Linked DNA regions of Homo sapiens: region 2 is linked to region 1. Evidence: fine-mapped expression QTL. A gene starts in region 1. The other region holds a variant in brackets. All regions are shown on one strand. Distances are from middle to middle.

Region 1 (2,910 bases):
ATCAAGGACTCCCCTAGGACTCAAGAAAGTGCTCCAAAATATACTTTGGAAAGGTCTAGTCAAACTATATCACTCTACTTTTATTCATCAAAATTAAGAGACTGTAGTTTTTCCAGCTACAATTGTCCATACCTACTTTCCTTTTCCTTTTTTTTCTGTTGCTATCATCAGGCACTACTTTCTCTTCTCCTGTGCTTAGACTAATAGTTCTCATGTTTGAATTATCTGAGATACTTTAAAATAAATCCCAATGCTTGGGATTTAGTATAAAATCTCCTTCCCTCTCAGCATTACTTTTCTCCTACCTTAATGGTTCTAAGAACTGGGCACAGTAGTCAGATGAAAAAAAAAAAGCCCAAAATTCGGGATAAAAAATTATATCATCTTCAAGCCTCTGGGGAAATCAATTCAGCTCTTCACAAACTCCTGCCTGTGTAAAAAGTAACACTTATCTAGTTAAGGATTGTTGTGAGGACTAAATACAACAGCATACGGAAAGTTTTTAGTACAGGTAAAACGTGCTGTAGAGATGAAAGTGTGGTAGATTACAGGCAGCTCTGCCTTTCGTTTTCAGATGCCTTCTCAAATTCCGCCCTGGGCCGGATGAATGTATAGAAAATAACTTTTTAAGGCAGATGCATCTTCGTTCATCCTTCTTAGGTATTTTCACGCTCACATCTAGGCTCTCACCTTGGTTTTTCTATTGAGCACAGCATCACCCTCGGGCCACTCGAAAGCCACCATGGGCCTTCCTCTCTATCTTCTATTTAGGAAGGGCACAATAAACGTTGCAAAGTAACGCCTTGCTAGACACCGTATAGCTATTTTACTTATTCTGCAGTCTTTGCCCAAATCTCTATTTAATTTATGCCAAAGATGAAAGCTAAAATTTTAAACACGAAAAAGGCAGAAATCCTATTTATAGCTAGTGTGTTCCTGTGATCTCTCCGGTGACTGTTTCTAGCTGTGGCAGCGGACGGCCGGCCCTTCCCAGCCTCCTCGCCGGCAGGTCCCCGCTCACCTGTACAGGTCGTAGCCCGCGGCGCGCGCGGAGCCCCGGGTGGGGGCCGTGGCGTGCTCGGAGAGCCGGGCAAAGCGGAGCTGCATGCCGCCCACCTCCGCAGGCCGGGCCCGCTTACTGGGTGAAATGGCGGGTGTCTCTTCAGAGCAGGGCATGGCAGAGCCAGAAGGCGAGCGAGGAGACCACCGGGGGAAGAGGAGAGCGCACGATGAGCGTCGCCGCAGGGAGCGCGCCAAAACCGAAATTTCCCGCCAGCCCCGCCCCACCCACCGCCCCTCCCCGGGACGAGTCCACAGTTCTGGCTGAGAGGGGAGGCGGGATTCACATTTTGGGTTTGAAGCCCTTCTCGGAAAGCAGGTTTGGGATGGGAAACTACTGGGTCCCAGTCAACTTTCCACATTCAGCGCGTGGGGCCAACTTTGAAGGGGAGCTTCTAGGGCGTCGCCCTCACACACTAGAAAGCCGCCCCCTCGCCAGGGGACCCTAATGGACCACCCCACCCCCCCCGCCCCCCGCGCGCAGAAGGACCGCTCGCCACCCTACTTCCCCCACAGCCTCAAGCCGCGTGGATTCCTTCCAGACGGCCGGAGCCCCTCCCCCGCCTTTCCTACCCGGCCCCGGCGCCGGGCTTCCCCCCGCCTTAGGAAGCTCGCCCTTCCAGCCAGCGGCCCCGACTGTACTGGCTCCGCGGCAGCCTTGGCTCAGGCGGCCAGCGCTGGACAGCGGCCGGGGAATCCCGTGCTGCGCGGCGCGGCCGAGGGGCGGGCCTGGCCCGGAGAGTACCGCGGCTTCGGCCCTCTGCCGTGCGCCTCGCGCGTTTTGCATCGCTGAGCGAAGCAGAGACGTAAGGAAATGGTAGCAGAGCGCGGGGCGAGGGCAGAGGGGAGTCATTTCCCCCAGAGTTTGGGCTGGTTGGGTCCTCGGCACCTCCGGACGTGCGCCAGGCTTCCACCCTGAAGACGCGCCCGTCCTGGGAACATGACCTCGGAAGCAGTCGCAGCCGCCGCCGGACGAGGGGCGTGGAGAGGCGGTGCCCCGGCAGCCCAGGGATGGCGCAGGCCCTGGGGCCCCAGGAAGACGGCGCCGTTGGCGTCTTGAGTCTTGCTGCCGCCTCTGGCTGCCTAGCCCTCTTGCTTTCGCTCTTCTTGTTTGCTCTGGCCCCCATTTTTCCGAGAGTGTACGCCAGGCCCGGGCCCTGCTCCTGGACTGATTTACCTGGGGCGGCACCGCCCGCAGCCATGACTCCCGGGCTCTGAGTTTAGCGGCGCCCTAAGCGCCGGAACCGCATCTCGGCGCCGGTGACAGTTATTGCGCCCGGGGCCGCTCCCCAAGCTGTGGGCAAGACACCGCGCCCGATTTCCTTTCAGCACCGAGTGTCAGACGTTGTAGTGTTTATTCGACCGGAGGCAGGGAGGGCGCTACTATCCTATCACAGGTTTGGGATAACCCAACAGAAACGCAGTGGGAACCCCTTGGCTAGGAGTCGAACAAGGATCCCGGGTCGTGGTAGTATAGTTTACAGTGGGGGATAAAGCAGTAACTTTCTAGATAGTTGTTAATAATTTTTTCTGAGCTGCAAGTATCTCCTTATTTCTCACAAAAATCTGCGAGCTGAATTGAATGGTTTTGAATTTTCAAAATTAAAAAAGCTGTGGGGCAGTTTTAGAGTATTATTGGGGAAATTTTACATTCGTTGCTATGCCTTTCCATACAGGCCCCCCCTTTTCGGTCTCCTTAACTGGTTCGTCTTCGTAGTTGGAATTCCTTTGCATGAGGCTATGGAATATACACTACCTTCTCTGGACGTTAACTATTAGCTACAGCTTGAGGACTCCCAAATTTATGCCTTTAGCAACACGATCCGAGCCCTGCAACTTTTCGACCTCATT
Region 2 (2,910 bases), 24 kb before region 1:
TTTAGTATTTTCTTTCCTTGCAAGGAAAGGAAACTTGGAAAATGCAACTGTAACCCAAAGGCCAGCTGTCTGGCTGTCCCCAAGTCTTCCAGTCTTCCAGAGTCACTCTTCATTTTAATAACAGCACACACACACACACACACACACACACACACACAGACACACACACTACTATATAAAACTCCCATCTGACTTCTATGGAAGAACTAGCATCCCTTCACCTCCAATCTTTTCAAGGATTCTCAGGAGCTCTGCTTATTCTTAATCTCGGCTGCGCATCAGGCTTCTCACTACTTTTTCTTCACCCATTTTGGCCCAGATGCAAACTCTTTTGCTTTTAGTCCCCCTCTAAAGTCCCACTGACACTAAAGGAGTGGATTTGACTGAAGTTTGGGTAATAAGAGGGGAGCTACCGTACAGATAGCTCGGAAAACAGATTAAAATGTAATCTGTGAAGTGATACAATGTCTGGGATTTGTTTCAAAATAATTCACTGGGGGTTGGGAGTGGGCAAGTAGGTAGGGATACGGAAGAAACAAAATCAGCTATGAGAGGATCATTGTTAAAGCTGAGTGATGATTACACGGGGTTCATTATACTTCTCATTCTGCTTTTGTATATGCTAGAAATTTCCATAATATAAATTTAGAAGAAGTGTCTTGGCACTCCTTGATGCAGGAAATTTCTCACTGGTCCTTTCTCTGATTAGCCTCCTACCATATTTTGGCGTTCCTGCCCCCTGCTAACCACCCCTGCCACCAACTCCTGAGTCCCTCACATCTCTCTGCCTCTCCTTCTCAGCCTGCCCAAACAAGCCCTTGAGCTCTGAGATCCTACTCTAACATTTGAGTAGCCCATCAGAATGGCTTGCTGACTCCCTAAAAATAAAGAGACCAGTTTTCACCCTAAGAGTAAATTCTGCCCCTAGGTTTACAATACCTCATTCAGGTAAAAGGAACACAACTAGAATAGCACCTGGTGTATATAGCACTTAAAAAATGTTAGCTCTCTTCCTTTTATTATTTGTATTCTAATTTAAGTTATGAAAATCAATTCTAAAATTTGGACACAGATAATTATATTAGAACAAAGCAGTTTAAAAGATGATACTCTGGCTGGGCGCGGTGGCTCACGCCTGTAATCCCAGCACTTGGGAGGCCGAGGCGGGTGGATCACTTGAGGCCAGGGATTTGAGACCAGTCTCGCCAACATGGTGAAACCCCGCCTCTACTAAAAATACAAAAATTAGCCAGGCATGGTGGCGGACACCTGTAATCTCAACTACTCAGGAGGCTGAGGCAGGAGAATCTCTTGAACCCAGGAAGCAGAAGTTGCAGTGAACCGAAATCGTGCCACTGCACTCCAGCCTGGGCAACAGAGCAAGACTCTGTCTCAAAAAAAAAAAAAAAA[G/AG]GTGATACTCTATGCCTACGAAGTAAAATGTGGCAGGCAGATGATTATTTTGCCTTCTAAACAAGAGATGTTCAATATAGACACAAATAAAACTATCTTTAAGTAATAATATTAATACGTATTTTCTCTCCCAACCACACTACAGTAGCCAAAAGGCTAAGCAGTTCTCACAGCCCCTGCTCATCAGAGGTGACCTAGAAGGCTGAGGAATCTGAACTCCCAGATGAGCTGTACTGGGGGAGAGGGCGGTGCAGGGGGTGGAACCTAGCGTGAGTACCCAGCCTCTCTTCTACCTTCGTCAGCATCAACTGGCAACAGCTCCTTTCACTTCACTTTGTCTACTTTGGCCTAGAAAACACAGGCTTTGCTTAGTGCAGCTCTGAAGTCAGCTGAGGTTAATGTTCAAACCCCACAGAAGGTGTGCGTCTGAAGAAAGGAAGTGAAGTTTCGTAAGGGAAAGGATTTTTTGTTTCAAAATATGTGTGGGGAAATAATAAGAGAATTCATCTGGATAATTATGTTAACAATACAAGGTAGAAACTGCATGTTGTCCATATTTCACATTCCCAGGAGGGAGAACAGAGATTCAGAGATTTGGGGTGCGATAAAGTAGCCGTGGCTTTTGCAGCCTCATGCCAAACACATCTGAGCAAGGGACACAGAAAAGTGGATGTGTTACCGCTGGCCTGTGCCATTGTCCCCAAACACACATGAGACAATGTCAGCACTTACTTCTAGCTCTAAATTGAAAAAACACTTCCTCTCTTTCTGCGAGCACCATTTTCCCTCCCACTCACCCCTGGAGTCTGACACAGTTTCCATTCCAAGGAGACCGGGTAATGATTCCAAGGAGAAAGGGTAACATACTTCAGCAAAAGAGCTGGCGGACAGTGTGAGACGGGCGCAGGGATCAGTTTAGGCTGAAATGAATTAGGAAACATTTTTAACTTGCCCTTTGAAGTTTTTATTGCCTTATCATCAAACGACTTCTCTTCTTGGGCTGTATATTGATTTTTCTGACTATGAAAAAGTGTTTCATCTCTTCTATGATAATCAAACAGTCTCAGTCAACAGCACCTTCTTTTTTCTAAACCATATTATTTCACTATTACACAATTATCCTACACTCCTCATCTGACAGGAACCTCATACAGCATTAGTCTTTTTCTAATATTATTTTCCCTAACATCCTCATTCCAAACATTTCCATTTCAAACATGTAGCTGCAGGGCATTATATCATTATTTGCCTTTGCTCTCATCGAAGTATATTTTATGAGAGCTTCCTGTCATTTATCCTGATCTATGCTACTATTTGTCAAAGCATCACCTCTGCTTCTCTGTCTGCTTCTCTAAGATGCCAGAAAAAAAAAAAATTTCTTCTCAACTAAAAGTTAAGCCATTATAAATCCCACAGGGATTTTAAAATGGGCACACTTGGGATTTTATTTTATTCTAAGTAGAATGTTCTTTCTGATACTCAAAGTGAATGACCTTGTAG

Evidence for each region.
Region 2: its variant is fine-mapped to the expression of DUT-AS1 in whole blood (INTERVAL, PIP above 0.99).

What each region holds. Positions count from the first base shown.
Region 1 is chr15:48,330,518-48,333,427 of GRCh38, reverse strand. DUT-AS1 (DUT antisense RNA 1) reads left to right here and starts at 1,572. Exons shown (of 3, transcript NR_186809.1): 1 at 1,572-1,865. It overlaps DUT (deoxyuridine triphosphatase), which reads right to left and starts at 1,999. Exons shown (of 7, transcript NM_001025248.2): 1 at 1,633-1,999; 2 at 1,022-1,160. The coding sequence starts at 1,912. RefSeq lists enhancers at 1,222-1,516, 1,440-1,964, 1,965-2,491 and silencers at 1,222-1,516, 1,567-1,776.
Region 2 is chr15:48,354,390-48,357,299 of GRCh38, reverse strand. No RefSeq gene overlaps it. Among named protein-coding and RNA genes, the nearest start is that of DUT-AS1, 24 kb to the right of the region's middle. The variant G/AG (reference allele first, on the strand shown) is at 1,411.